Linked DNA regions of Homo sapiens. Each later gene encodes a partner of the first gene's protein in a complex. Each region holds a gene or a part of one and is shown in the gene's direction. Other genes may lie near its edges. The genes, in order: LSM6, PPIH and PRPF6.

Region 1 (10,287 bases):
TTGAGATCATATGTGCCTAAATTCCCTGGTAATAGCTAGGTATTCCTAGTGAACTCAGGTATGAACAACACAACTGAAGAACATCTTGGTGCAGCAGCATTTGTTTTTGCAGGAGTATTCAAGATTGGCAAGCAGCTGTTGAGTATCATTTTACAACCTGAATGTCCCACTCATATAACGTATAATGTGTGTGGCAACAGGGTGAGACTCTGTCTCAAAAAAAAAAATGCCTTTCTGTTCTTGGAGAGAATATTATTTTTAAGAGGCTGCAGTGCTTTTGAAATTAACTTTATAGGAAGAATGGTTTTAAATTCCGTTTTTTAAAGTTACTGAATTTCTTATCTTCCAAGCTAAGGTATGTTAAGTTACCTGAAATATTTGGCAGGTGTAACTATAACTGATTCATTAGCAGAGGGACGTGGTCTCTTGGGTTGCTATAACAGAATACCACAGACTGGGTCATTTTTATTTTCATTTTTTGTATTTTTTTTATTATTTATTTCAGTAGTTTTTGGGGGTACAGGTGGTTTTTTTGGTTACATAGATACGTTCTTTAGTGGTGGTTTCTGAGATTTTGGTGCACCCGTCACCTGAGCACTGTACTGGGTAATTTTCTTTTTTTTTTTTTTTTTTTTGAGACGGAGTCTCGCTCTGTCACCCAGGCTGGAGTGCAGCGGCGCGATCTCGGCTCACTGCAAGCTCCGCCTCTAGACTGGGTAATTTTCAAAAACAGAAGTTTATTTTCTCACAGTTCTGGTGGCTAGGAAATCCAAGATCAAGGTGCCAGCAGGTTCAGTTGTCTGGTGAGGGCTACGTCCTCCAGAGAGGAGGAATGCTGAGTCCTCACGTGGCAGAAGGCAGAGGGCAAACCAGCACACTGCGTGAAGACTTTTTTTTAATGCAGGCCTTCATCCCATTAATGGGCAAGTCCCCATGGTCTGCTTGCTTCTTAAAGGCCCCCACCTCTTAATACTCTCCTATTGCCAAACACCTGAATTTTGGAGGGGACACATTCAAACCATAGCACAGGTTTTTGTGGCCTTTTTTTGGTCTCTTTTCTGAATAATTAATAGTCATAGTAATCTCTTGAGCTTTTTCCTTTGAAATCTCTATTGATTATCCCCACCTAGTAGAGGAGGAGCTAGGACTCAAGTTCAGGCTCGGCTCATAAGCCTTGTTAAGAAACCACTCTGGTGATTATGTACTCCTTTAGCTTCTTGACATTAATAACGTATCTCCAGTTTAATTTTATTTTTATAGTAAAATTAATGGATTCATACGGAATACTGAGGTAGTATAATGTCTCCGTGTACTGCCTCTCACCTGCGAACTTTTGATGATGGGCCCATAGGAAGTAATAGACTTCTAGGGGTTTTAATCTGTTTGACAGTTGATTAAAGTGAGGACATTGTGTTCAATGTCTTCTCAGTACCCACTTTATTGAAGAGATGAACCAGCCTGACCTTTTTTCTCTGTACTCTTTAGGGAAAATTTTTCTATTTATAAAGGCAATACATGTTTTAGTTTTGTTTTAATTTTAGAAATGTAAAAGGAAATAATACAGAAAAGTATATAGAAGAAAGCCAAGGATCCCCAATGCTACTATCCAGAGACAGTTTACCAATTTTGACCTCTATATTAGCATAATTTGACATAAATGGAGTCAACTACATGCAACCTGATTTTTTTTTTAAACGTTGAAACAGTACATTTAGTTTTGTAATAATATAGAGGGTTTAATGGCTGCATAGGAATCTCTTGTGTGGCTGTACCATGGTTTTGCTTTTACTGTTAACCAATTTCCTATTAATGGACATTTAGGTGTTGACCAGTTTTTTGCCACTATAAACAACTCTTCTACTTTGACATATATTGTGAAGTTGACCAAACATCTCTTTAGAATCAATTCCCTGGGCTAGGATTTACAAGTCAGAGAGTATTCCATGGCCCTGCATCAGGGAACTTGGGTTTATCCTTCATGTTCTCACCAACTCTTGTATTAGCTTTTTTTCATCTTTTCCAATCTAATTGGCAACAAGTAATATCTCATTCTACATATATTTTCTTTGTTTACTAGTGAGATTCAGGAGTCTTTCACATGGATAGTAACCATAATTTTTTTTCCTCTTATGAATGGCCTTTATACTATTAAAGCAAAATGTTTTATACTATTAGATAGCCTTACTAAAGGAACGTGCTTATTTTGTGGTTTACAAAACCCCAAAAAACCCCAAAGCAAAACAACAACATACCAAAAAAAAAAAAAAAAGAAAAACTCCAGCAACTCTCTGTAGCAGTTTCTCTTTGAGAAAATGTCTTGTTTTTGGTTTTGTATAGTAGTTTATCTCATGGAAGGAAAGGGTTGTATTTCTAACCCCCTGGGCAGTTTTTTTGTTGTTGTTGTTGCTTGTTTGTTTGTTTGTTTGTTTTTGCCTTTGCTGTGAGAATAGATATTTTAATTAGAAGTGAACTCTTTTTTTTTTTTCTTTTTTCTTTTTTGAGACCGAGTCTCACTCTTTCGCCCAGGCTGGAGTGCAGTGGCTCAGTCTTGGCTCACTGCAACCTCCGCCTCCCAAGTTCAGACGATTCTCCTGCCTCAGCCTCCCAAGTAGCTGGGATTACAGGCACCTGCCACCATGCCTGGCTAATTTTTGTATTTTTAGTAGAGACGGGGTTTCGCCATGTTAGCCAGGCTGATCTTGAACTCCTGACCTCAAGTGATCTGCCAGCTTCTACCTCCCAAAGTACTGGGATTACAGGCATGAGCCACTTTGCCCAGCCTGGACATTTCATTTTGAAATTCTTTTCATTGGTTTTCAAACAGGTTTGCATATTGTGCCTCAGATTTTTCTTGCTCATTTATAATTGCAGTTTGTATGTAAAATAGTACAGCAGGAAACGAGCTAAAGTTGTAGCTTAAGCTTTCTTTTGCTAGGAAATAATTTTATTATTCACAGTCCATTCTCGTTCTTTGAGAGTTTACCGCTTTTAGCAGAATTCTGGTAGATTAATGTCTTTTGCTGTCATTACACAATTTTGAAAGGAAACTTTTTTGTTTAGAGGATAATGGGGGCAGAGGCAGAGAGTGAGGAGCATATTAATGAAGTTAAGACATCAAATGAGAAACTATAGACTCGACTGAATTGAATCTAGTATTTGTTTTTACTTAAATTTTTTTTTCTAGGAAATACCACTTTAAATTAGAGACAGAATTAGAGGCTTACAGATTTTCATCTTTTGAAAAAGATCATCAGGTCAAATTTTACAAAATTTATACCATCTTAACACAATTAAAGATTGACTCAAACTGTTTCCTTGAAAGCTCCCTCGAATGTTTTTGGCCATTTTCTCTATTAGTTTTGATTGGAAAATATTATAGCTGTAACAAAACAGAACAAGATGTGTTATAATGCAATATGTTGCCCTATATTCTCAAGCTGCTCTTCACTGTGAGTCACAGCTTTAAGATGTTCTTTCGGGAGCACCTGCTGTCTCCTCTTCTATTATTTTAACAGATTGTGGAGACTTCCTTTTAACCCTGGAGTACATTCATCTGCTGCAATAGATGTTGTAAAAGAATGAAATAAATCTGCCAGACCCGTATTTCACTTAGTGGCTAAAGTAGGAAATGCCACTGGAACCAAGGATCATTTGTTTATGCATAATTGCCCACCTTGTGCTTAGCTTTCAAAGAATGGTATTTTTGCCGGAATAGTCTTATTCTCTTACTTTTTTGAATGCTTTAAAAGTTTCTGTGTGGTCATACGTACCATGAGGGAAGTGACAGTTTGTTGTTTTACCGGGTAGTAGTGGGTGCGTGACTGCCTTCCTAGACTTCATTCAGATTGGCATAGAGTTGTTTTGTGCTTAAGCTGTTGAGTTTCATTTATGGTGTGAATTTTTATATTAAGCATCTAAGAACTAATGAATAAAGAGATTGTCTGCTCTAAGGTATACCCTGTAATTTTCAACTCTTATTTGCCTTGTGTATCTTCTTTTTGACTAAATATGTCTGCAGGGGTCCTGGCTTGCCTGGATGGCTACATGAATATAGCCCTGGAGCAGACAGAAGAATATGTAAATGGACAACTGAAGAATAAGTATGGGGATGCATTTATCCGAGGAAACAATGGTAACATTTCTTCGCCCTACAGTACAGCATTCAAAATAAGCCTTTCTATTTATAATCCAGATCACCAAAGAGGTTTCTAGATAATTTAAAAGTCCACTTTTAGGCTTGATTATTTTAAAATGCTTATATGTCAGATCTTCAGTTTGACCAGTTATTTTGTAGATGCTTCATGGAATTTTGAAACCAAAATTCTCTCCTTCCCTTCCTTTAGTGATGAGGAACTGAGGGACATTGTTCTCCTTACCTGGAACCCTGCTTTCTCGAATATAGTGTAGTATATCTCCCCAACACATATTCCTGCTTCTTGTAGCCTGGAAGTTGGAGATGTAAGAATGGGCACCGTTTCCCTGCTGTCTTTGATTTGCATAATTTGGCAGTTCGTCCTATTTGTCCCTTCTCTATTAAACATTCAGATGCTTTCTATGCAGATTTGCATCCTTCAGTTTGGCAAAAATGGCAAAATAGAAAAAGTTACTCAGTTTTTAACAACTAATAAATTGCTATGATTTTTATAGTTATTTTTAAGTACCTAGTTTAAAAATGAAAATTATAATAAAGTCATATTTGTATTTTTGGTGGGGAGGGAAAGATATCAGAATTATGAGAATTACCCCACTTTTTGGTTCCATCTCCCAGAAACTCTGGGATTCTTGAGTTCAGATTTTTTGTTGATTTCTTTAATTCTGGATGTCTTCAACCCCCTAAATAGTTGGATCTCTTTGCTATAAACTAAACTTCCTGACTTTTATAATAAGAGTCTGTCCCCTATGCTTACAGGACCTTATTTCTTCATATCATATTTTTACATACATTATTTCCTGGCTTTCTAGTCCTTTCTATTTATAGAATTATTTATCCTATTTTTCATATCCTTATTTGACCTCCTCTTTTTCCTAAGAAATGTTATGATCTTGTCTCACCTCAAGACAGCTAATGGCAGCAGTCACTGGCAGGTTGGGTTCTGTGCGTGTTGATAGGGTAGATCCTTTAACGTGCACACTACCCCTAGGACTTGGGGGGCAGGGTTGGGGGGCGGCTGTACTGGCATTCTGATGCTTCCCTTCATGTCACATTTCCCATGATGTAATCAGTGACACTCATCTTTAGACTCCCAAGTTCACATCATTGGCTCTTAAAGAGGATCTTGACTTATTTGATTCATCTGTGCTATGTTCTTTGATGAAGACACCTTACTGTTCGCTTTGAGCAGACCTCTCAGAAGCCGAGTAGGCATGGAAGGTGGAAGGGAGAACCACCTCTAGTTTGGCCAAAGTGACCCAAGCATTTCATTTTGTTTCATTCCTACGGACCACACATCCTACGAGTTCATGTTGGTAGTCATGAGAAGACCACTAAGCAGAACATTAGGTAACACCAAAGTATGAGACTTTTAACGGGAACTCAGAATAAGGACTTTGGTATCATTAAAAAATAAAAATAAAAAATAAACTCCTTAGCTCTTGTTTATCCTGTTGCATTTAAGAAGGTAAACAGCAAGTTTAGAGTTTGTATTGGGGAGACAGATGAAAATATGTTGTTTATTCTTAATTTGAGATCTAGCCTGGTTAGATTTACTGATTTACTTTCTGAAAAGCATCTTTTTTTTTTTTTTTTTTTCCTGAGATGAAGTCTCGCTCTGTGGCCCAGGCTGGAGTGTAGTTGTGCAATCTCAGCTCACTGCAGCCTCTGCCTCCCAAGCTCAAGCAGTCCTCCCACCTCAGCGTTCTAAGTCGCTGGGACTACAAGTGCATATACCACCATGCCTGGTTAATTTTTTGTATTTTTGGTAGAAACGGGGTTTCACCATGTTGCCCAGGCTGGTCTCAAACTTCTGAGCTCAAGTGATCCACCCGCTTCAGCCTCCCAAAGTGCTAAGATTGCAGGCGTGAGCCACCGTGTTCAGCCCTGAAAAGCATAATTCTTATACTTCTAACTATAAAGCATTCTTAGATACCAGGGACTTTCACATATATTTTATTTTATCTTCCTGGTCACACTTTAAAGAGTCAGTGAGACACATGGATGAAATTAGGACAGTTTTGTAAGACATCAAACCTGGGTGTAGATTCATAAAACTAGTCTTACAGTACTTCTAGAGTTAATTGAATGATACGAGAATTCCTTTTAAATGTCAGATGTATCAGACCAAAATCTGTTGGCTTTTAAACTTGCTACTATGTATACTTACAAGCAGGGTTTTTTAAATTTCAATTTATGTATTTTTTTCTTTTCAGTGTTGTACATCAGTACACAGAAGAGACGGATGTGAAGACACCAAGAGAGCAACGCTTTTCATAGTTGGATATATTTTTTTATGAATTTTTTCTAATTTTTGCTTCTTTTGTGATACAATTTGTCCTCTTTTTATAATAGTTGGTGATTTTTCACTGACATGTGAGTAAGATAAATGTATACAATTGTGGATTTAATTGTGAAATGTTCTTTCACTTGTAAGTTTCAGTCATTTTCTTTTACCTCGTTGTCAGTGTACAGAATGCTAAAATAATTAAAAAAAGACAAAATATACCTCTTCCTACAAGATTATTTAACTTAAGTTTCGAGAAGTGTCATTTCATTTGACTTGCTTTTCTTATCCAGCTAAAATGATGCATATATTTTATATATTGTATGGACATATAATTAAAACATTTTGGAGGAATCCTCCTTTATTGCATCCTTTTCTGTTCATACAGAATCCTTGCGTGAATATGTTCTACAAAGGCATCCAGTTTCAGTCTGAAGCTACAAAAAGGGGCCACAGGATCAGAAGTTCAGCCACTGATTGAGTCACCTAAATAAAAAACAGAATTGGAAAGCCAAGAGTGCCACTTGCACATAAGGAGTGGGAATTCGAACTGAGGTGCTGGAGAAATCCTAAAGATGAACAAGATTTCAGTGAGGAGAAAGCCCTCCTGTCAGTGGTCCCCCTGCATCTCCTTATGCAATTAGACTTTTTAGGTTTCCCTGCTCCCTTTCAGGAGCATTGGCATCAACGTTATTCTCTCAGTTTATGAACACAGTAGGGGAGGGGCCATTCCTGTACATCTCTCACAGTCAGATTAAAGCAAAGCCTAGAGTTTGTAAACATAATTCAGGTTCTAATTGCCGAGCTGAGATTGGGAAAGAATTTTTCCTAACTCTGGTCTAGCAAGTGGCTGTAGGGAGGCCTTTCTCAAAAATCAGCTGTATTTGCCTTTGACATTGTCCAGGAGCAGAGCACCAGGCTTTATGTTGCTTGGCACAAGGCAGCTCCTCTGGTTATGTGACTCCTGCTGAGAGGATTTTCACAATTTATTAATGAGCTTTCCACAACCCTGCTTTATTCTCCAAACAGTTTTACGCTGTCTCTAGGAACAACAAATATATCTGGGCACTGTGGTTGAATGAATACCAGACAATTGTGTGAATGTTGTATTGGACTTCCTCTTCCCTCCCTTCCCAATCTAAATAGCATTCCTATTTCAGGAGCCGATGGTGTGATTCGAAACAACTGCTTGGTTGAAGGATGGGGGGCAGGATCGAGAAGGAGAGAGGGAAGGGGCAGTGCTGATTCTGGAGAGGTGTATGTAGTGTTTTGTCTTGGTTTATTTTAAAGATCAGAGAGTAATTGGAAACAATTATTTTTTAATTAATAACTTGGGAAAGGTGAACAGAAGCATTTCACAGGGTTTTACCGTGTGCACACTGAAAATAAAACACTTTATGCTATGCTTCAATAATTTATCACTTCTTGACAGGGGCTTGGAAAAGGTCCAGTATGTAAGTACAAATCACCAATTTGCTCTTTTATAAATGAGTTCTTTTAAGGAGAAAATGGATGGCTCTCCAAGTGGAGCATACATGTTCTCATTTGTTTTGTAGAATATGTGGGGCTGCAGGTTATTGTGTCCCTTCATTCACTTATATCAGCCACCTCTAAAAGCAATTCCATTGTAGTCTCCCACTAATCTGTAGCGTCCTGTTTTTTCTAACTTCTTCCCTGACCTCGCCTTTGATATATAAGTCTTTATTTTCCCCTTGCCATCTCTCTAGTTTAATAGCTCTACAGTGGAGTACTGTTTTCAACCATGGAACTACTTTTAATCAAGATCAACTTTGGGAAGTGCTGCCATTTTTATGGTAATAAAGGACTGTATTATGCACTTGAACCCGCTCAAGTTGTCCCCTGTGTATACCTTCACATAGTAGAACCATGAAACAAAGTGTAAATGCTTAAATTGCTTTGTTCTTAACTGTAGTCTCCTAGAGGTCAGTGAATGATTTCTAGTTGCATTGTAGCGAAGACATTTGTTCCAGGTTGAAGAATTTTTTACTTGAGAACATACATTTTCCCTGTCTGTGTGCCCCCAAACCCTGTCTGCCACACTCTTTCTCTTGGGCTGTGACAAAACAGAATGTTTAGCGAGAAACAAAATTGTGCTCGATTTTCAGACTATCTGACTTCATTTTCTGTTTTGGTCTTTGAGCTATTCCTTGGCTAATCTTCCAACAAGTCGAATTGATTCTTATTTCAAAACTGTTTATCCCAAAACAGAGCTGTTGACAAGTACAAATACAGATGGCAGACATGTGGTATGATTTTCATGTTCTCATCTCAGCATTCAGGAAGGGAATGTTATTGAAAGATGGTTTACATCTGAAGCTTTCTGCTCAAGGCAATATGGAATGCATGCTAGGAGCGCTTAATTATGCTTAATTAATAATAGTAACAAATGCTTACGGGATTTCCTTAAGGTCTAAAAGTGCAGCAGCATTGGACTTGCTGTGTAAGGCTTACCGCCCCGGAGGCTATAATAATCTGTAACAATAGAAGCAACCTCTAGGGGGTAAAATTGTCTTTGATAATCACTGACTCTTGGGTGACCTCAGTACAGCATTCCAGGCCAAAGATCCAGAATGTTCCCTTACTGGGGGCAGACACGCCTATGATTGCACTGACCTTTGTCCTCCGAGCAGATGATCCTCCAGAGTACTGGCTAGCTCTTAGATTCAGAGGTAAATCCCAGCCCATGCTGTGGCCTTGCTGTTCCCCACAGCCCAACTGCATTAACTATAATTTTTTTTTCTCCACAAAAAGAAATTGTTGGTGAAAGGAAGACAACCTTCAGTTTTTCTCCCCACCGACCTGGTTTCAGGAGGCCGTGTGCTCAGTGGAGTGTCTCTGCCTGTCTTCGCTAAGCTTGCCCCTGACCATTGTGGAGGTAGATGCCACCTAAGAGTGGCAGGGTTAGTCCTGACCTCTGGGGTCTGAATATCCAGCAACTATCTTAATTCCAGTCGCTGCTGTCTGTTGTACCACCAGTACACAGCAGTACAGCTGTGTCTCTGTTGTTGACCGACTAACTTAGATTCACTGTTGAAGTCCAATTAGCCAGAGTGGGGGTGAAAATGCAAGAGTGGACGGTGAGAGTGGTATGTGTCATGTACGACAGGACAGTGGAGAGAGCCCTCTCTGATACCTGTTAGTCCCTCCTTTAAAAGATGCGGGAGGTGGCCAGGGAGTGGGGATTTCAGAATGTGGTGGCAGAAATCAGTTTGGCATTTATTGGATGACAGCTGTAGGCAGGCACTGTGCTATACCTTAGGGGGGTAGATAAAAAAGGAAATATGACATTGCACCTTCCATACTGAGTTTGTAGGTTTGGGTATTTATGGGGGAAAGTGGTACCCTCCATCCTTTTTTTAAAAAATTGGGCCAAAATTGTAAGAATTCTTTTAAAAACCTGAACATTTTAGATGGATTTGAGCATCTCAACTGTATGTTCGTATCTTGAAATTCCAAATAAACTCAGGAGTGGATAATTCTGAAATCTGAACGTAACTATGCCCTGTTTACCCACAGGCCCAGGTAGTTCAGCCTCCCATCTTTGTTTTTTTCCTTCTCCTAGAAAAGCCAGCTTTTGTGTGGTTTAACTGAACAGTCATGTTGGATTTTTTTTTATTTGAAGACCCATTTTGACTCATCTGCAGCACTGAAGGATTTTCTTCATAGTAATTTGGGAGTTATAGCAGATAGAAAGGCAGAGGCATATTCCAGGAATTTCATGAAATATAAAACACTGAAACACTTGGGATAGGCTAGTTTTCAATGCCTAGGTTACACAAATGTCCAAATTCACATGGGCTTAATTTATTCCAAGTTTTATAATGGGATG
Region 2 (10,969 bases), on another chromosome or scaffold:
GTAAGGACGTGCTCCAGCTCCGCTGGATTAGCTGAGGCAGAAGTCGGGCTCCAGTCAGCCGCCTGAAATAGCCTGTCTACCTCTGTCCGTCCGCTCACTGCTCTTGAGACCTGATTCCTCCATGCATTGCTCTGTCTGGTTGCCGTTTGGATTGTTCCCGTGTTAATTTACGTTGTTAGTCTGTGTGACTGCGTGTCTGGACGTCTGGCTGGCCGATTGGTGGACTTGCTGGCTCCAGTGTTTATTCTTTCCCGTATTTAGAGGCGCTCACGACTGTGACATCATAGTGATTGAATCATTCATTTTTTGTCCCTTTCAGGCAGTTCTGCACCGGAGAATTCAGGTCAGTTTCAGATGTGTTTGACTTCTTTGCCTGCTCCAGAGGGGTGTTCTGGGGCTGCAGTGAGGGTATCGGTGAACCACCTGCTGGCCTTGAATGATTGCTGGTGACAGTGATAGAAGGTAATGCCCCAAGGGTCTGTCCCTAGTTTATTTGCCTTCTTTATGTCTGTCAACCATCTTTAGGAGAGTCCTTTTGGCTCCAGTGCATGGTAAACTGGAAAGGCCTTGTGCTACCTGCTGTCACTCCAAGTCTCTTTCTTTTCGGTTATAGGAAAGATGGGGTTCCAATAGGATACAAAGGAAGCACCTTCCACAGGTAAGGCTCTTGGCAAGCCATCCTGGAGTCTTTCAGAAATATTTCCTGGGGGATTAGGCTCTTTAGAGGAAAATAAAACCAGAGGGTAATTCTTACATTTCTTGAGAAGAAATGTTTTTGTGGACTCAACAACTGAAGATTTATTAAATGTTCTAACTCTACTTACACTCCCCCACTTCTTAGGTCTTTAAAACAGAAACTACTCATCTTTACAATATCTTGTCTTTTTCATGCACTTGTTTGTGCGAATGCAGATTTTTTAAAAAGTACACTTGTAATCCTAAAGTGCATATAATATATCCTGCTGGTTGATATTTATAACTAATTCCTAAAATGATCATATATGATTGTCCAAGGATAATCATATTTCCTGGGGAGTGGAGTATGTCAACACTTAGTCTCATTTCAATATAGAATCTTTCTCATGGCCTCACTGTGGTTAGTAACAATGTTAGCACATAATTATATCACAGCTTTAGAGCTTTGGGTCTCTAATCCCCAGTAAGACTCCTGTGAAGTGGTATGGGTGATCTGCATTCTACAGAGGAGGAAACTGAGGATAAGAAAGGTTAAGGACCCTCCCTAGGGGTAATAGCTAACAGTTGTTAAGCCCTTACATGTTTAGCAGTACATTTCACATAAATTCTCTGTAGTTCTTTCCCCCAAATTTACATCAAACCCTTGCTCTGCCTTTTGCTTTGGCAAGTAAGCTTTCAGCCCCTTCTTCTTATTACTGTTCAGGTACCAGATCATGCACTTGATCAACTCTAACATGCCCTAATTTATAACGAAAATCCTTTTTTATGGTTAATTATCCTTTCAGCTTAATCATTCAGGAAAAGAATAATCTTCAGGTTTTTTTTGTTTTGTTTTGTTTTTTTGAGACAGAGTCCCACTCTGTCGCCCAGGCTAAAGTGCAGTGGCATGATCTTGGCTCACTGCAACCTCCGCCTCCTGGGTTCAAGCAATTCTTCTGCCTCAGCCTCCCGAGTAGCCAGGACTACAGGCATGTGCCACCACGCTCGGCTAATTTTTGTATTTTTAGTAGAGACGGGGTTTTGCCATGTTGGCCAGGCTGGTCTCAAACTCCTGGCCTCATGTGATCTGCCTGCCTCGGCCTCCCAAACTGCTGGGATTACAGGCGTGAGCTACCGCACCCAGCTAAGAGTAATGATTTTATAATAGCCAAAGTGATAGTGTATTTTGAAATCAACGTTAATCTAATACAATAATAACAACATCTATGTTTTTCTAAACCATAAAATCTTCTCAGTATTCTTTGCTCTCTGTTTCAGGGTCATAAAGGATTTCATGATTCAGGGTGGAGATTTTGTTAATGTAAGTACTATTCCTTTCCTATCAAAGACCCGTAGTTTTAGTTTTTGTTGTTATTGTTGCAATTGCTGTTTTTACTACAGAGACCCAGTCTTCAGGCTTGAGAACAATAGCCAGGTTTGATGTGGGTGTTGGAGAGAATGGTGATGGGGAAGTTCTTGAAAGTGGCTGGGTACGACTGACTGTAGATAACCGACTTTAGCACTTTGATTGAGGCATTAAATTCCATGGTCCAAATCTCAGCCTTTTTGAGCCAGAAATTGGACTTTTTAAGAATACCTATAGATGATCTATGATAGGTTCACACTAATTAGTCATATGAAACTTAGTCAGAAATCAGCTGTGGTTTTTGTTTTTTTCTGAATGGAGGTAAGTCTCCTTCTAGTGGGCTAAATGCTTGTTTCATTTTCTCTTTTACTTCTGGGTGTCACAGTGCCTGGAAAGCTGAGTTTTTCATAAGAAGTTGATTTGTGGGCAAGGAATCAGAGCAAGAGAGGTAGATAGTTCTGGAGGAATTTTGCTCTATTCACTGAGAGAGCCCAGTGAAATAGTTCTTTTTTGCTAACCATAGCTTTCTTGTAAGTAGACTGTTTTTGTCCCCCATATGAAGCCTCCCTCCCCACCCCAACCTTGGAGGGTGTGGGATAAACTACATTTTTTCTTTCTTAAACCTGCTTTTGTCCTTACCCCCCACTTCTGAATGGTCTTTCTTTACTCTTATTAATATCATTTGGTTAGTTGTGTTGCTGTTTTCTTGGATCTGGGAGACATGTGTTCTCTTTTATGTGTTTATTTAGTCTGAATCTCATGAGTTTTTAAGACCTCTTTCCTTTCCTATGCAATACAGGGTTGCAGAGTGGCAGGTTTTAGGCCGAATTACGTTTTTACCTATGTTTTGATTCATCTGCATGGTGTTGTATAACTGTGAAATGGCACAAAAAAATCCTAGTTTTTTTTTCTCTTTAAAAAATGGAAAGTGGAAGTATGCTGGGCCTGCATTTCTCACAGTGGCAGTGACAGTGACAATTGGTTGGAATCAAGGAACTGGTCCCTTTGGACATGGCATATCTTTGCCATTTCACCAGTCTCCACAACTGTTTCCCTTATTTACGTTGCCTGCTCCTGTGGGCATTTGTTTGCAGCCCCGGGAAACAGATAATGGTAGTAGGGTTTGTTAGCTGGTAAGAAGGGCTGAGAAGCTATCCTCTGCCTTCTTTCCTTTTTTTTCCCCTAGGCTTCCCTGTTGCCTTACAAGGAGAGGAATAGCTTTTTACTAGTCTTTGCCCCAGGCACATCTGATCACTTGTCGATAACTCTGGGGTTAGACAATAGTTGCTCAGTCTGAAGGCCGAGTTAAAAGCAATTGCTGGTAGGGCTCACATCTGTAATCCCAGTACCTTGGGATGCTGGGAGGATTGCTTGATCCCAGGAGTTTGAGAACAGCTTGGCAACATAGTAAGACCCTGTCTCTACAAAAATAAGAAAAGTTATTTTTTATTTTTTTATTTTTGGTGGTGTGCGCCTGTAGTCCCAGGTACTTGGTAGGCTGAGGTAGGAGGATCCCTTGAGCCCAGGAGGTCAATTCAAGGCTGCAGTGAGCCATGTTCATACCACTGCACTCCAGCCTGGGCGACAGAGCAAGACCTTGTCTAAAGGGAAAAAAAAAAAGCTTGCTTAGAACCTTCCTTGGGGAAGGCAAAATGGAATGAGCAAGAGTCAGAAAAATCAGAATTTGAGACCTTCCAAAGTTTGACCAAGAATATTTGTTTGTTCATTTATTTTTGGTTTTAATAGTATTTATTATTTTGGTTGCAAAAGAAAAGTGCAAAGAAGAAAATAAATCACCAAATGAATTACCCTCATTCTCACCTCACAATATACTATTGGCATTTTGGTTTACAGTTGTCAGTCTTACCTTAGTATGTATATGTGTGTTTATATAATTTTTAACAGACTTAAAATAATCTATATGTTTTACTTTTTTTGTACTTCATAATTGTCCATATTTTCCCTTGTCGTTATGTCTTCTAAAACATGCTTTCTAATAGCCACCTAATATTTCATTATGAATAGACAAGTTATTTGATCAATTCACTATAGTTGAAGATAAGTTGCTTTCTATTGTTTGCTCCAAATTATTAATTTTGTAATTTTCCCTATTGTTTCTGGAGAGCTATAGATAACGTGATTACGGAGAATGGCACGGTAACTGATGTGTCCCTTAGGTTCACTGGGAAATTGGAGATGAACTTGTTTTCTCTCTTCCTTCTGTATTAATATGTATGTGTAGTTAGTTAATGACATATTAGCTTATTTGATTATTTATATAGTACTATATTGTTTGTACAGTGCTTTTTACAGACACTATCTAATTGAATCTTCATGATAACTGTAAAGAGTAGGTAATTTCATCCTCACTTGATAGATGAGGAAATTGAGGCTCACAGATTGGAAGTGACTTTCCCAGCTCTAAGTGATAGATCTGGAACTCAAATTCAGATCTTTTTTTTTTTTAGATGGAGTCTCGCTCTGTCGCCCAGGCTGGGGTGCAGTGGTGCGATCTTGGCTTACTGCAACCTCCACCTCCCGGGTGGGTTCAAGCGATTCTCGTGCCTCAGCCTCCCGAGTAGCTGGGATTACAGGTACCACCACCACACGTGGCTAATTTTTGTATTTTTAGTAGAGATGGGGTCTCACCATGTTGGCCAGGCTGGTCTCAAACTCCTGACTTCAGGTGATCCACCCGCCTCAGCCTCCCAAAGTGATGGGATTACAGGTGTGAGCCACCACACCAGGCCAGGTCTTTCTAATATACAGACTTGATTTTATTTTATAATATTTAGGCAAACAAAGGTTTGAATTTGGACAGTTTTTCTTTATTCTCTGGCTTATATTAATGGTAGTTCTTTTCCAAAAAGGGACCCTTGATTCCTCACTGGGTCAGTGTTTTCCCTTTCTCCCATGTACTCTTTCTCTTTACTAACTGGCGAGGAGAGCTTGATCTTTTTGGCACTCCTCAATATTGCCTTTAAAACTCAGGGATTCTATTTAAGGCACTGCAAATATGGCCTTGGTCAAATTGTTTTATTACCCAGACTTCAGTTTCCTCACATGAAAAATGGGGAAGATGATAATGCTTATTCCTCAAGGTTGCTGGAAGAGCAAGGAGATAATGCAAATAAAGCTAGTTTAAGCAGAAATTGGGAGTTTATAATAAAGGGAGTGTTTCATGGAACTAAAGGAAGAAATAGAACTAGGAACTAGAACCATAGAGAACCAAGGCAGTTCTTTATCTCCGTTTCTCTAGTGCTCGCTACACATCTGTGTTGTGTTCTCTCTCTGTTCTCTAGCCCAGCTTGCAAATGGTAGTCACATCCAGCTTTCAGGTTTACATGTTACAAATTTAGCCTCAAAGAGAGCATCTATCCCACCTCCAGATTCCCAGAGAAGGAACTCTAGTTGGCCCAGAGTGAGTTAGGCATCCTTCCCTAGATCAATCAACTATGACCAGGAGGGTGGTATCATGTTGTACATACAGACTGCCAAGAGCTCACCCACCCTCTTAGATAGTTTAGGGGAATGGGGTGGTAGTCACTTAAGTGGGTACTTTTATGTGACTGAAGGCATGAGAGTCTTCAGGAATGGCAAGGATTGAGTATGTGATCACCTTGTTGCTGTTCCCTACTTTGTCTGCATCTTAATTGATCGTTCTAGAGGCCCAGCTGTGACCTCTTTTATCCAGTCTATAAAATGCTCCAGCCAGTCTTTGTGGGCTGTAGGTACCTTATATAAGGCTTGATCTGATTGCAGGGTGGGGTCAAATAGGTGCAGCTTCCAAGATGACCAACAAGAGTAAGAGTAGACTTTAAAGATGTCATGCTTTAGGTGCGACAGTGTTCTTCCTCCGGTTTCCAGGGACCCAACACTCCAAGTCACTAATACTTCCCTTCTCTCTGCTCAGGGAGATGGTACTGGAGTCGCCAGTATTTACCGGGGGCCATTTGCAGATGAAAATTTTAAACTTAGACACTCAGCTCCAGGCCTGCTTTCCATGGTAAGTGAGGTCCAATCAAGGTTTTGGGTTATAGCCAGCTGGTTCCTGGGCCCCTCTTGAGGCCCAGTGCTGTCTCTTGGGATGGAAGCAAATGCTTTCCTTCTCTTGCTTGGCCCAGGACTCACCTTTACCACCTCCTTTCTTAGTCTGGTTTGACTGAGAAAACCAGTAGGTATGCTGGCTCACGCCTGTAATCCCAGCACTTTGGGAGGCTGAGGCAGGTGGATAACCTGAGGTCAGCAGTTCGAGACCAGCCTGGCCAACATGGTGAAACCCCATCTCTACTAAAAATACAAAAAATTAGCCAGGTGTGGTGGTGGGTGCCTGTAATCCCATCTACTCGGGAGGCTGAGGCAGGAGAATCGCTTGAACCCAGGACGGGGAAGTTGCAGTGAGCTGAGATTGCCCCACTGCACTCCAGCCTGGGCAACAAGAGCGAAACTCCATCTTAAAACAAAGAAAAGAAAGAAAAGAAAACCAGTAGGTAAGGCCCACTAGCAGGCTAGCAGGCTGGGGAACTAAAATCTGAACCAGGATTTGTGTCTGGGCATTCAGCCCTACTGCTCAGAATGTAAACAGTTGTGCTTTCAAGACATATTCATAGCTGGGTGTGGTGGCTCACACCTGTAATCCCAGCACTTTGGGGAGGCCGAAGCAAGAGGATTGCTTGAGGTTGAGGTCAGGAGTTTGAACAATCTGGGCAACATAGTGAGACTTAGTCTCTACTTAAAAAAGAAAAAAAAAATTAGCCAGGTGTGGTGACACACACCTGTAGTCCCATCTACTAGGGAGGCTGAGGTGGGGAGGATTGCTTGAGCCCAGGAGTTTGAGGCTGCAGTGAGCCATATCCTGTTCATCTCTGTATCCTTGGATCCTAGCTTAGGCCCTGGCTCATAATAGGTGCTAAGTTAGATTTACTGAAAAAAACCATAGAGGAATCAGTGTTACAAGCTCTTTTGGAAATCTTGCCCTTCAGCTAACATGGCCGGGGAAACTTACTGCAGGTATATTTGGTTTCCATCAGGCGAACAGTGGTCCAAGTACAAATGGCTGTCAGTTCTTTATCACCTGCTCTAAGTGCGATTGGCTGGATGGGAAGCATGTGGTGTTTGGTAAGTCCTACTCCTGTCTCATGGTCCAGGCCCCATTCACCCTGGATGGAACCTCCAGAGGAGTTAGTTCTCAAACTCTTACCAAGAAAGCTCAACCTGTGTAACTGCTTAGGTGGTAATAGAGAAAACAGAAATGGTGGGGAGGTGGGGAACATGTGTGGCTAGAGAACTAGAGGGAAGGACAAAAGGACCATTTGATATAGTATGGAACCACTTAGGGAGAAAACCCAGTTGCTAGCACCAAAGAAATGCCATAGAGGCAGCATGATACGGTGAGACTTTGGAGTCACTCAGGTATAAGTTTGAGCCCTAACTCTACTTATTACCTATGACCTTGAGCAAGTCATTTCACCTCTACCGCATCTTAATTTCCTAAAGTTAGTATGAGGGTTTAATGAGAAAATAGCTAAGAATGGGCTTTGGAAGCTGGAAAATGCTATGTAAACAAGAATAAAGTCCAGCTCATGCTCTTCCTACAGGAAAAATCATCGATGGACTTCTAGTGATGAGAAAGATTGAGGTAAGTACTGCTTTGATTTTTCTGTTTCTCTGCCATTGTGGTCTGGTACTGTCTGACTAGCGTGCAGGAGCTAGAGAAGGGGGAATGAGCTCCAGTTTGTTAGGCTGTCTTCATTGCCCCAGGAAAAGGGAAGAGAACCACCTAAGTTAGCCTGTCTGGCCAACACTGAGGTTTGGCCTCTGATGATCCTGTTGCCTACTTGATAAAATTCTACTCCTCAGCATTGCGTTCAAGGTCCTTCATGATTAGTCCCTGTCTACCTCTCCATGGCCCCTTCTTCTGCCATTGCCTCTTCCATGTTCCAGTCACATCAGGCTACTAGCTCTTCTCTAAATCTGCCATGCATGTCCCTGCTGCTTGCTCTTTCCTGCCCCTGAGCCTTTGCTCACACAGTTTCCTCTAGCCGGAATGCTCTTCTTTCCTTCCCTCCTGATGGAATCCCATTCATCCTTCTAGGCACAGTTCAAATACCCCTCTTTTGTGAATCCTTCCCTGACCTCTTTAAGCCCCAATTTAGTTGCCTATCTAACCCTTATCCAATTCTCTCTTATAACTTTTTCTTATATAATCATAAGTTTGATATTTTCTAAGTGTTTTGCATTTTCTCTTTGATAGGTATTATATGCTTTACCTGTCTGCCAGGACATGGACTGTTTCTGAGTGCTGAGTCCTTAGCACAGGGCTGGCAGGCATCAGTAAAAGTTTGATAAGGGAACGAGGAAGTGCCTGAGTGGATGAATCTCCATTGTGCTTTTTTTCCTAGAATGTTCCCACAGGCCCCAACAATAAGCCCAAGCTACCTGTGGTGATCTCGCAGTGTGGGGAGATGTAGTCCAGACAAAGACTGAATCAGGTAAGTGTGTCTTTCTCCTATTAGGTTAGGAATCAGACCTCAGAGAAGGCAGCATGGTCTAGTGGAAAGAACTTTAGTCTTGAAGACATGAGATTGAGCCCAGTTCCTCCGTGTATGGCCTTGGAGTAGTCACTTTCCTTCTCTGAGCACATTTCCTCATCTGTCAAATGGAAATACTGTAATACCTATCTCTCAGAGTCACTGTAAAAATAAAAAGAGAAAGGGTTGTAGGAGCACTTTACTTTTCTATCACTTTGTAATGTACAAAGTATCAATGTGAAAACTACTCAGGCAGTTTGTAACAGCACTCTCAGACTACAGTTCCATTCAGTAGTCCCCCTAGAAAGACCTGGCTCCAGGCCTGAGTAACTCTCTGCTGGGACCAGGCCAGGCAGCCAGGAGACACACCTGTCATGCCTCTCATCAGAACTGATACTGCAATTCCAGGCCTCGACTTCATATTCGCTGGCCTCATAGGTGAATGCCTTGCATCTTCCAGCCTACATGGACTCATTTCTTACCCGTAATTACCACTGCCTGCTCTGCGCTGGGCAGCATGCTAGCTGCAGAGAGGGGGACAAAGAATTGAAAGATGTCTCCTTTCAGGAGCTCATGGAAAGTAAGACATTCCCAGAGGTGATCACTAGTAATATGAGTGACATTGCCAAGTATGAGAAGAGTACAAGGGAGAAATCCATCACTTCCAGCCAGGTGAGGGGTAGTGATGTTTTGTTTTTCTTTTTTTTTTATTTTCAAACCTGCAAAAAAGTTAGAAGATAATACCTTGAACACCAATATATCTTCACTTAGATTCACCAATGATTAACATTCTTGTTTTATTGCTTTGCCTTGACATTTGTTTTTTTCTTTCCCTTCTTGCCTCCTCACCCATTTCCATTGCCTCTCCTCCTCCCTCCTGCTCCTCTTCCCTCCCTCCATCCTTTCCTTCCTTTCTTCCCATCTTCCTTCCTTTACCCTTTCTTCTTCTCTTTCCCATTTGAAAGTTGCAGACTTCTTGACACTTTACCCCTAAGTATTTCAGCAAGGAACTCCTAAAAATAAGAACATCCTACGTAACCACAATATTATCTAATATATAGTACATTTTCAAACCTCCCCAATTGTCCCAAAAGTAACTTTTGTAGCTTAAAAAAAGGTGATCCAATCAAGGTTCCCATATTTCATTTCATTTGGTTTACACAAGTAACATAATACACTCTCATTGTGAAAACTTTCACACCAAACAGATAAAGTGAAAGCCCCTCTTGACAATACCCACCTGCAATTCCACTCCCCTTTCCAAAGGTCACTTCCTTATTAGTTTGATGTATGTCCATCAGGGCCTTTGCCTTGCCCATCTAATTTTGGGAGGTTTTCTTTTTCCCAAATGAAATCATACTATATTTTTCATGTTCTAAAAAATATGTCTTGAAAACTTTTCCTTCTTAGTTCATGTAAAACCACCTTGTATTAAAAAATGAAAACAGCCCGGCAGGAGGTGGCTCACTCCTGTAATCCCAGCACTTTGGGAGGCCAAGGAGGGCAGATAGCTTGAGCTCAGGAGTTCGAGACCAGCCTGGGCAACCTGGTGAGATCCCGTCTTTCCAAAAAAAAAAAAAATTAGCCAGGTGTGGTGGTGCATGCCTGTAGTCCCAGCTACTCAGGAGGCTGAGGTGGGAGGATTACTTGAGCCCAGGAGTTTGAGGCTGCAGTGAGCTATAATCACACCACTGTACTCCAGCCTGGATGACATCAAAAAAAAAAAAAAAAGGAAAAGAAAAACCGAAACTGCAGTGCAGGCTGAGCATCCCTAATCCGAAATCCCAAATGCTCCAAAATATGAAGCTTTTTGAGCACTAACATGACATTAGAAGTGGAAAATTCCACACCTGACTTCATGTGATGGATCATAGTCAAAAATCTGTTTCATGCACAAACGTATTAAAAATATTGTATAAGATTACCTTATACAATAGCTATAAGTAGCTAGGACTACAGGTGCATGCCACCACGCCCAGCTAATTTTTATATTTCTTGGTAGAGATGGGGTTTCATCATGTTGGCCAGGCTGGTCCCCACCTCAAGTGGTCTGCCCACCTTGGCCTCCTAAAGTGCTAGGATTACAGGCGTGAGCCACTGCCCCCAACTGAGCATTAGTTCTTAATTTTATATGTTGTAATTGTTTTCTTCAGAATATATTTTAAGAAAAAAATTAGTATTGTGTTGCTTAAGTTTGGTGATATTCTTTGTTAAAGAGAAGTTCTAAATTTTGATGAAGTCCAAATTATCAGTCTTTCACTGCTTTTCAGTTTTGTCTCATTTAAGGTCTTTACTACCTCAGATCACAATGTTTTCTGTGTTTTTTCTAGTATTTCTTTTTATATGGTGGAGCTAAGATCATTTTTCTAGTATTTTTAAAGTCTTATTTGTACATTTA
Region 3 (10,969 bases), on another chromosome or scaffold:
CCTGGGCAACACAATGAGACTGTGTCGCAAAGAAAAAAAAAAGCCACATATGGTAGGCCCACAGCTCGTATCATACTGAATGGGGAAAAACTGGAACGCAACAAGGATGCCCACTTTCACCACTGTGATTCAACATTGTACTGGAAGTCCTAGCTAGAGCAGTCGGACCAGAGAAATAAATAAAAGGGCATCCAGATTGGAAAAGAAGAAGTTAAATTATCCTTGTTTGCAGATGATATGATCTTATATTTAGAAAACCCTAAAGACTCTACCAAAACACTATTGGAACTGACAAATTGATTAAAGTTGCAGGCTATGCCCCCAGGTGTGGTGGCTCACACCTGTAATCCCAGCACTTTGGGAGGCTGAGGGTGGGTGGATCACCTGAGGTCAGGAGTTTGAGACCAGCCTGGCCAACAAAGAGAAACCCTGTCACTATTAAGAATACAAAAATGGCCGGGCACGGTGGCTCACGCCTGTAATCCCAGCACTTTGGGAGGCCGAGGCAGGTGGATGACTGGAGGTCAGGAGTTCGAGACCAGCCTGACCAACGTGGTGAAACCCTGTCTCTACTAAAAAAATTACAAAAGTTGCCAGGCGCTGGGACTCACGCCTGTAATCCCAGCACCTTGGGAGAGTGAGGTGGGTGGATCACTTGAGGTCAGGAGTTTGAGACCAGGCTGACCAACATAGTGAAACCCTGTCTCTACTAAAAATACAAAAATTAGCTGGGTGTAGTGGCACACGTCTGTAATCCCAGCTACTCAGGAGGCTGAGGCAAGAGAATTGCTTGAACCTAGGAGGCAAATGTTGTAGTGAGCTGAGATTGCACCACTGCACTCCAGCCTGAGTGACGGGGCAAGACTCTGTCTCAAAAAAAAAAAAAACCAAAAAACAAAAATTAGCCGGGTGTGGGGGTGCACGCCTGTAGTCCCAGCTAGTTGGGAGGCTGAGGCAGGAGAATCGCTTGAACCCAGGAGGTCGAGGTTGCAGTGAGCTGAGATTGCACCACTGCACTCCAGCCTGGGTAACAGAGTGAGACTCCATCTTAAAATAAAAGAAAATATCCATACTACCCAAAGTAATTTACAGATTCAATGCAATCCGTATCAAAATACTGGGGACATTATTAACAGATAGTGAAAAAATAGCCAGGTGCAGTGGCTCATGCCTGTAATCCCAACACTTTGGGAGGCTGAGGCAGGTGGATCACTTGAGGTCAGCAGTTCGAGACCAGCCTGGCTAAACCCCATCTCTACTAAAAATACAAAAATTAGTTGGGCATGGTGACAGGTGCCTGTAATCCCAGCTACTTGGGAGGCTGAGGCAGGAGAATCACTTGAACCTGGAAGGCAGAGGTTGCAGTCAGCTGAGATCGTGCCATTGCACTCCGGCCTGGGCAACAGAGTGAGACTCCGTCTCAAAAAAAAAAAAAGAAAAAGAAAAAATAATTCTAAAATGTACATGGAGCCAAAAAAGACCCAGAATAGGCAAAGCTATCCTGAGCAAAAGGAACAAAACTGGGGGAACACTTGACTTCAAATTATACTACAGAGCTGTAGTAACAAAAACAGCATAGTACTGGCAGAAAAACAGACACATAGACCAATGGAACAGAATGGACCCAGAAACAAATAGGTACCTCTACAGTGAACTCATTCTTGACAAATGTACCAGGAATATTTATTGGGGAAAAGACAATCTCTTCAATAAACGGTGCTGGGAAAACTGGATATCTATATACAGAAGAATGAAACTAGACCCCTCTCTGTCACCACATACAAAAATCAAATTAAAAGACTTTAAGACCTCAAGCTGAAACTACTAGAAGAAAACATTGGAGAAACTCTACAGGACATTGGACTAGGCAAAGATTTCTTGAGTAATACCCCACAAGCACAGGCAACGAACGGAAGCCAGGTGTGGTGGCTCGCTCCCGTGAGCCAAGAGTGCGCTACTGCACTCCAGCCTGGGCCACAGAGACTGTCTCAAAAAGGAAAAAAATAAAAAGTTCTCATTATAGAATATTAGGAAAATAAGAGTAAGTATGGGTAAAAGCATAACATTTATTCATAAGTCTAGAAAGTAACAGTTAACATTTTGGCTCATTTCCTCTTTCTGTTGCTTTTTTTTATCTTGGCTCACTGCAACCTCTGCCTCCCGGGTTCAAGCAATTCTCCTGCCTCAGCCTCCCAAGTAGCTGGGATTACAGGTGCCTGCCACCACGCCTGGCTAGTTTTTGTATTTTAGTAGAGACGGGGTTTCACCATGTTGGCCAGGATGGTCTCAAACTCCTGGCCTTGTGCTCCATCCACCTCGGCCTCCCAAAGTGCTGGGATTACAGACGTGAGCCACTGCGCCCAGCTCTGTTGCTTTTTATACATGTAATCATAACTTCCTGTGATGTATGTAGAATGTTTTATTTTTTGAAGATAATTTTAGAATAGTAAAATATAGTTCTTCTGGAATTTTATTTATTTTTTATTTTTTTGAGTCTCCCAGGCTCAAGTGATTCTTCTGCCTCAGCCTCCCAAGTAGCCGGGATTATAGGCACGCGCCACCACACCTGGCTAATTTTTGTGTTTTTAGTAGAGACAGGGTTTTACCATGTTGGCCAGGCCGGTCTTGAACTCCTGACCCCAAGTGATCCACCCGCCTCAGCCTCCCAAAGTGTTGGAATTACAGGTATGAGCCACCGTGCCCAGTCTTGCCACACACTTTAAACAACCAGATCTTACGTGATGTAAACTTGCTGCCTCGAGGACAGCACCAGGCCATCAGGGGTCTGCCCTCAAGACTCAAGTGGCCTCCCACCAGGCCCCACCTCAAACATTGGGAATTATAATTCAGCATGAGATTTCATGGGGACACAGATGTAAACCATATCCTTTGGCCTCCCAGAGTGCTGGGATTACAGACATAAGTCAATGTGCCTGGCCTGGACATCTTTTTAGAAGCTCGTTATTAAATCATTGTGCATAAATTTTATACCTATAGTAATTAAACGTGAATGGCATTGCATTTCACTTTTTTTTTTTTTTGGATACAGGATCTTACTCTGTCACCCAGGGTGGAGCGCGGTGGCTTGATTATAGCTCCCTGTAACCTTCAATTCCTGGCTCAAGCGATTCTCCTGCTTCAGCCTCCCAGGTAGCTGGGATTACAAGCACGTGCTACCACACCCAGCTAATTTTTCTTTTTTCTTTTTTTTTTTTTGAGATGGAGTCTCACTCTATTGCCCAGGCTGGAGTGCAATGGCGCAACCTCGGCTTACTGCAACCTCCGCCTCCAGGGTTCAAGTGATTCTCCTGCCTCAGCCTCCCAAGTGGCTGGGATTACAGGCATGCACCGCCACGCCCGGCTGATTTTTGTAGAGATGGGTATTTTTAGTAGAGACGGGGTTTCACCAATGTTAGCCAGGCTGGTCTTGAACTCCTGCCCTTGTGATCTGCCTGCCTTGGCCTCCCAAGGTGCTGGGATTACAGGCTTGAGCCACCACGCCAGGCTCACACCCAGCTAATTTTTGTCTATGTTGCCCAGGCTGGTCTTGAACTCCTGGCCTCAAGTGATCCACCTGCCTCCCCTAACCTTGGCCTCCCAAAGTGCTAGGATTACAGGCATGAGTTACTACACTCAGCCCTACATTTTAAAAATTGATTGGAACCTCCAGGGTTAATGCATTTTAAAAAACATCAGGCTGGGTGCAGTGGCTTACATGTGTAATCCTAGTACCTTGGGAGGCCAAGGCAGGAGGACCACTTGAGTCTAGGAGTTCGAGACCAGCCTGGGCAACATGGTGAAACCCTGTCTCTACAAAAACAAAATTAAAATTAGCCAGTTGCACATGCCCGTAGTTCCAGCTACATTCCCAAGGCTGAGGCAGGAGCATCGCTTGAGCCTAGGAATTAGAGGCTACAGTGAGCTATGCTTATGCCACTGTGCTCCAGCCTGGGCAACAGACCAAGGCCGTGTCTCTAAAACAAAAACAAAACAAAAAACAGCAGGTGACACGGACCCATGAAGAAAGCCATTAAATTAAATGTTTTTAAAAAGTAGTGTACTTGGCCGAGCACGGTGGCTCACACCTATAATCCCAGCACTTTGGGAGGCCGAGGCGGGCAGATCATGAGGTCAGGAGATCGAGACCATCCTGGCCAACATGGTGAAACCCCGTCTCTACTAACAATACAAAAATTAGCTGGGTGTGGTGGTGCATGCCTGTAATCCCAGCTACTCAGGAGGCTGAGGCACGAGAATCACTTAAACCCAGGAGGCGGAGGTTGCAGTGAGCTGAGATCGCACCACTGCATTCCAGCCTGGTGACAGAGTGAGACTGTCTCAAAGAAAAAAAAAAAAGTAGTGTACTTATTAAAACTTTTTATTCTGAAAACTGTCGTAATACAAACAAGTAGGAAGAACAGTACTGTGAATACCATATCCTCACATGTAGTCTCAACACCGAAGTGCAATTACATGGGTTATGTTCTGGCACATAGAGCTGTGCAGCTGAGCTGAGTTGGTTAGAGGTGAACTATTTACTTGGAAGAGAAGGAAGCAAGGAAGGAAAGGTGGGATGAGTTCAGTAGAGTGTTTGGAGTGTTTGGTGGTAACTAGGATAGTTACTGTTTTTCCTTGTAGGTGTTTTTTTGTTTTGTTTTGTTTTGTTTTGTTTTGCGACAAGGTCTCGCTCTGTCGCCCAGGCTAGATTGGCTCACTGCAACCTCCACTTCCTGGATTCAGATGATTCTCCTGCCTCAGTCTCCCAGGTAGCTGGGGATTACAGGTGCCCACCACCATGCCCAGCTAATTTTTATTTTTATTTTTATTTTTTTGAGACGAAGTTTCACTCTTGTCACCCAGGCTGGAGTGCAATGGCATGATCTTGGCTCCCTGCAACTTCCACCTCCCAGGTTCAAGCAATTCTCCTACCTCAGCCTCCTGAGTAGCTGGGATAACAGGCATGCGCCACCACGCCTGGCTAATTTTCATATTTTTAGTATAGATGGGGTTTTACCACATTGGCCAGGCTTGAACTCCTGACCTCAGGTGATCTGCCCACCTCGGCCTCCCAAAGCGTTGGGATTACAGGTGTAAGCCACCACGCCTGGCCTTCTTAGGTGTTTATGGGATGGTCCTACCTTTGGGATTTTGTGAATTTTCAAGCAGTAAATATACACATGTCCAAATGGAGGTATTTAGATCAAAGTAAGATCTTTTTTTTTTATTTTAATGAATTTCTACATGTTTTTATTTGGTGGATAATTGAATTAGTAGACTTACGAATGTATTTATATTTATTTATTTAGAGGCAGAGTCTCTCTGTGTTGCCCAGGCTGGAGTGCAGTGGTGCGATCTTGGCTCACTGCACCCTCTGCCTCCTGGGTTCAAATGATTCTGCCTCAGCCTCCCAAGTAGCTGTGATTACAGGTGTGTGCTACCATGCCCAGCTAAGAATGTATTCATAGTTACCTTAAAATATATTTGATTTGGGCTGGGTGCGGTGGCTCACACCTGTAATCCCAGCACTTTGGGAGGCCAAGGTGGGTAGATCACAAGGTCAGGAGTTCGAGAACAGCCTGGCCAGGATGGTGAAACCCCGTCTCTACTAAAAACACAAAAATTAGCTGGGAGTGGTGGCGAGCACCTGTAATCCCAGCTACTTGGGAGGCTGAGGCAGGAAAATCACTTAAACCCAGGAGGTGGAGGTTGCAGTGAGCTGAGATTGCGCCACTGCACTTTAGCCTGGGTGACAGAGCAAGACTCCATCTCAAAAAAAAAAATGTGTGTGTGTGTGTGTGTGTGTGTGTGTGTGTGTGTATATGTATATATATATATATATATTTGATTTAGCTACTAAGAGTATGGAATTGTTCTTTTTGGTGATTTAATTGAGATGGATAATAAATTTGCTTCAGAACAGACATGCAGTGTTTCTGATGTGTGCATGTTTTATTTCCTAGGGAGCAAAGGGAGAAAGAAGAAATAGAGAAATATCGTATGGAACGCCCCAAAATCCAACAGCAGTTCTCAGACCTCAAGGTGAGCCGATGAAGCGGTGAATGGTGTGCGGTTTCTAACGCTCTCACCCTAACCCGCAGAGACTCAGACTGCTCTTACGTGGAATTTATGAGACTTTACGTTTTTAATTTAGGGGGTCATTGCTTAGAAGAAGAAAGTGTTTGCTTCAGTATGTTTAATTATATGTGTGTAAAAAAAAACCCTTCCCCTACTGTAAAAGGTAGGACAAATGAACTTATTTTCTTTGTAATTTTGACTCCATTTATACCTAAGATTTTCTTTTTTCTTTTTTCTTTTTTTTTTTGGAGGCAGTCTGGCTCTGTTGCCCTGGCTGGAGTGCAGTGGCGTGGTCTCAGCTCACTGCAACCTTCACCTCCTAGGTTCAAGCAATTCTTGTGCCTCAGCCTCCTAAGTAGCTGGGATTACAGGTGCCTGCCACCATACCCAGCTAATTTTTGTATTTTTAGTAAAGACAGGATTTCGCCATGTGTACCAGGCTGGTCTCAAACTCCTGAACTCTAGTGATCTGCCCACCTCAGCCTCCCAAAGGGCTGGGATTACAGGCGTGAGCCACCACGTCTGGCCCCATTTATACGTAAGATTTTCTAAACTGTGTCCCCTGGGCTTTGAGAGAATAATTTACATTTTAGTGAAGTTGAACAGATCCAATAAATTGATTTTTCTTTTCTTTTTCTTTTTTTTTTTTTTTTGAGACGGAGTTTGGCTCTTGTTGCCCAGGCTGGAGTGCAATGACGCGATCTCAGCTCACCGCAACCTCCGCCTCCCAGGTTCAAACGATTCTCCTGCCTCAGCCTCCCTAGTAGCTGGGATTACAGGCATGTGCCACCATGCCCGGCTAATTTTGTATTTTTAGTAGAGATGGGGTTTCTCCATGTTGGTCAGGCTGGTCTCGAACTCCCGACCTCAGGTGATCTGCCCGCTTTGGCCTCCCAAAGTGCTGGGATTAACAGGCATGAGCCACCGTGCCCGGCCTAAATTGATTTTTCTAAGTGAAGTAGAAAACTATTTTTGGGGCTGGGTACAGTGGCTCACATCTGTAATCTCAGCACTTTGGGAGGCTGAGGTGGGAGGATCACTTGAGCCCAGGAGTTTGAGACCAGCCTTGGGGAGAACCTGTCTTTACAAAAAATAAAAACTTAGCCAGGCATGGTGGCCCACGCTTGTGGTCCCAGCAACTTGAGAAGCTGAAGTGGGAGGATCACTTGAGCCTGGGAGGTTGAGGCTGCAGTGAGCTGTGATTGTGCCACTGAATCCAGCCTGGGCAACAGAATGAGACCCATCTCAAAACAAAAGTAAAAAACAGTTGCTGCATCCAAATCCCTTCTAAAGCTTGGTGATCTGGAGGCTAGGGGTGAGAGAGGGCATGGTCCTACCTGGGCACATGAAATTCTGTCAGAGAATTAATGTTTTTGGGGGCTGGATATTTCCAGAGGAAGTTGGCAGAAGTCACAGAAGAAGAGTGGCTGAGCATCCCCGAGGTTGGCGATGCCAGAAATAAACGTCAGCGGAACCCACGCTATGAGAAGCTGACCCCTGTTCCTGACAGTTTCTTTGCCAAACATTTACAGACCGGAGAGAACCATACCTCAGTGGATCCCCGACAAACTGTGAGCTTCCAAAAAAGGGCACATGTGGCCCATTTAGTCCTGTTAGATCAGTGGCAGGAATGGTGGGTGGTGTTGGATTCAATGCTTCTGCAGGTCATGGCTATGCTGTGGCCGAGTCTGTCTGCACAGCTGTGCATATGTCAGGCCACTGGGGAAGTATTTCAGAGAGTAAATTTCTTGGGCATGCAGTGCAAACCGTTGTTTTATTCTTGCCTTTCCTCTCTTCCCCTCCAGCAATTTGGAGGTCTTAACACACCCTATCCAGGTGGACTAAACACTCCATACCCAGGTGGAATGACGCCAGGACTGATGACACCTGGCACAGGTGAGCTGGACATGAGGAAGATTGGCCAAGCGAGGAACACTCTGATGGACATGAGGCTGAGCCAGGTGAGTTTGTCACACAGCATTTTCCTGTGGACAGGTTTAGACAGTTTAATTTTGTTTTGTTTTCTTTTTCTCCTTCTTCTTCTTCTCCTTTTTCTTCTCCTCCTTCTCCTCCTCCTCCTTCTTCTCCTTCTCCTTTTTTTTTTTTTGGCTTGATTTTTGCCTGAATAATTCCGCAGATTTTTAAAATTTTGACCCAGAGTCTTGCTGTGTCACTCAGAGGCTGGAGTGCAATGGTGTGATCTTGGCTCACTGCAACCTCCACCTCCTGGGTTCAAGTGATTCTCCTACCTCAGCCTCCTGAGTAGCTGGGATTACAGGTGCCCACCACCACACCCGGCTAATTTTTGTATTTTTTGTAGAGACGGGGTTTTACCATGTTGGCCAGGCTGGTCTTGAACTCCTGACCTCAGGTGATCTGTCTGCCTTGGCCTCCCAAAATGCGGGGATTACAGGTGTGAGCCACTGCACTTGGCCTTTTTTTAAAATATAAAATAATAATTTTTTAAAAAGTGTGTTTTTTTCCTGCCTCTCAGTAAATTGTCTTGTGGCCCTGCATGGAACGTGTACTTTGATCTGGAGACTAGGTGCTCTAGACACCAGTGAAGTACAGAACTCTTTCTGATATGCATATCAGATACCACGAAGGAACATACTACTTTTGGCCTGGCCAACATGGTGAAACCCCGTCTCTACTAAAAATACAGAAATTGGCCAGGTGTGGTGGCGGGCGCCTGTAATCCCAGCTACTTGGGAGGCTAAGGCAGGAGAATTGCTTGAACCCGGGCGTTGGAGGTTGCAGTGAGCCGAGATTGCACCAGTGCACTCCGGCCTGGGCAACAGAGTGAGACTGTCTCAAAATAAAAAACAAAAACAAAAACAAAAAGTGGCACAATCATGGCTGGCTACATACAGCCTTGACCTCCCTGGGCTAAGGCGATCCTTCCACCTCAGCCTGCCAAGTAGCTGAGATTACAGGCATGTGCCACCATACCCAACTAATTTTTGTATTTTTTGTTGAGATGGGGTGTCACTAGGTTGCCCAACCTGGGCTGGAGCTCCTGGGCACAAGTGATCTGTCCGCGCTGGCCTCACAAAGTGCTGGGATTACAGGTGTGAACTACCATGCCCAGCCTGAAATTTGTTTACATAGAAATTGTAAAACTTTTTGGGCCAGGCACTCATGCCTGTAATCCTAGCACTTTGAGAGACCAAGGTAGGAGGATTGCTTGAGGTCAGGAGTTCAAGACCAGCCTGGGCAACATGGTGATGGTGAGACTCTGTCTCTACAAAAACTAAAAGAAATAGCTGGGCCTGGTGGTGCCTGTAGTCCCAGCTGTTCGAGAGGCTGAGGTGGAAGGATTGCTTGAGCTAGGGAGTTTGAGGCTGCCATGAGCTATGATCGCGCCTCTGCACACCAGCCTGGGTTACGGAGTGAGACTGTCTCAATAAATAAATAAAACTGTCACAGTAATTTTTTTGTGGTAAAATATATGTAACACAGAATTTACCATTTTAATCATTCTTGACTGTACATACCTTCACTGACATAATTATGTTCATGTTGTTATACAACCTCATCACCATTCATCTCCAGAACTGTTTTCATCTTCCCAAATTGAAACTCCGTACCTGTTAAACATTGAGTCCCCGTGCGCTTTCTCCCCAGCCCCTGGCATCCACCGTTCTCTCTGTTTCTATAAATGTCACTACTCTCTGGATCTTATATGACTGGAATCATACAGTATTTACCTTACTGTGACAGGCTTATTTCAATTAGCTCATGGTGCAGCATGCGTCAGCATGTTCTTTTTTTTTTTTTTTTTTTTGAGACAGAGTCTCTCTCTGTCACCCAGGCTGGAGTTCAATGGCATGGTCTTGGCTCACTGCAGCCTCCGCCTCTCGGGTTCAAATGATTCTCCCACCTGAGCCTCCCAAGTAGCTGGGACTACAGGTGTGCACCACCAAGCCCAGCTAATTTTTTTTTTTTTTTTTGAGACGGAGCCTGGCACCGTCACCCGAGCTGGAGTGCAGTGGTGTGATCTCGGCTCACTGCAACCTCCACCTCCTGGGTTCAGGTGATTCTCCTGCCTCAGCCTCCCGAGTAGCTGGAACTATAGGCGTGTGCCACCATGTCTGGCTAATTTTTGTATTTTTAGTAGAGACGGGGTTTCATCATGTTGGCCAGGATGGTCTTGATCTCCTGACCTCGTGATCCACTCGCCTCAGCCTCCCAGGATGCTGGGATTAGAAGTGTGATTTTTTTGTATTTTTAGTTAGAGATGGGATTTCACCATGTTGGCCAGGCTGGTCTCGAACTCCTGACCTCCAGTGATCCACGTGGCTCGGCCTCCCAAAGTGCTGGGATTACAGGCATGAGCCCCGGCGCCCCGGCCAGCATGTTCTCAGTTTAAGGCAGGATGAGACTTGACTCTTTGGTGTGTGTGGACCGCATTCGCTCATCTATGTAGACCGCATTCGCTGACCTGTTTATTCGCTGACGGACACTTGGACCACTTTCACCTTTTGACTATTGTGAATAATGCTGCTGTGAATACGGGTGTACAGATATTTGTCAGAGACCCTGCTTTCTATTCTTTCTTTTTTAATAAAAATTTTATTTATTTTTTTTTGAGACGGGGTCTTGCTCTGTCACCCAGGCTGGAGGGCAGTGGCGTGATCTCGGCTCACTGCAGCCTCTGCTTCCCAGGTTCATGTGATTCTCCTGCCTCAGCCTCCTGAGTAGCTGGGACTACAGGCATGTGCCACCACGCCTGGCTAATTTTTGTATTTTTAGTAGACACGGGGTTTCACCATCCTGGCCAGGCTGGTCTCGAACTCCTGATCTTGTGATCCACCCACCTTGGCCTCCCAAAGTGCTGGGTTTACAGGCGTGAGCCACCACGCCTGGTCAAAAATTACACTTTTTTTTGTAG

Evidence for each region.
Region 2: LSM6 (region 1) and PPIH share a complex: the UniProt entries of both Homo sapiens proteins name them as parts of the U4/U6-U5 tri-snRNP complex.
Region 3: LSM6 (region 1) and PRPF6 share a complex: the UniProt entries of both Homo sapiens proteins name them as parts of the U4/U6-U5 tri-snRNP complex.

Annotation. Positions count from the first base shown.
Region 1 is NC_000004.12:146,183,256-146,193,542, forward strand, and holds the end of LSM6 (U6 snRNA-associated Sm-like protein LSm6), read left to right. Parts: intron 1-4,018; coding exon 4,019-4,132; intron 4,133-6,366; coding exon 6,367-6,401; 3' UTR 6,402-8,280; downstream 8,281-10,287. UniProt on the Homo sapiens protein: Plays a role in pre-mRNA splicing as component of the U4/U6-U5 tri-snRNP complex that is involved in spliceosome assembly, and as component of the precatalytic spliceosome (spliceosome B complex).
Region 2 is NC_000001.11:42,658,909-42,669,877, forward strand, and holds part of PPIH (peptidyl-prolyl cis-trans isomerase H), read left to right. Parts: exon of another isoform or gene 1-319; coding exon 320-343; exon of another isoform or gene 344-436; coding exon of another isoform or gene 437-462; exon of another isoform or gene 463-613; coding exon 614-658; exon of another isoform or gene 659-718; intron 719-1,953; coding exon 1,954-1,996; intron 1,997-5,954; coding exon 5,955-6,047; intron 6,048-7,071; coding exon 7,072-7,159; intron 7,160-7,638; coding exon 7,639-7,679; intron 7,680-8,442; coding exon 8,443-8,511; 3' UTR 8,512-8,532; intron 8,533-9,138; exon of another isoform or gene 9,139-9,243; intron 9,244-10,969. UniProt on the Homo sapiens protein: PPIase that catalyzes the cis-trans isomerization of proline imidic peptide bonds in oligopeptides and may therefore assist protein folding. Participates in pre-mRNA splicing.
Region 3 is NC_000020.11:63,987,447-63,998,415, forward strand, and holds part of PRPF6 (pre-mRNA-processing factor 6), read left to right. Parts: intron 1-5,960; coding exon 5,961-6,039; intron 6,040-7,469; coding exon 7,470-7,646; intron 7,647-7,880; coding exon 7,881-8,036; intron 8,037-10,969. UniProt on the Homo sapiens protein: Involved in pre-mRNA splicing as component of the U4/U6-U5 tri-snRNP complex, one of the building blocks of the spliceosome.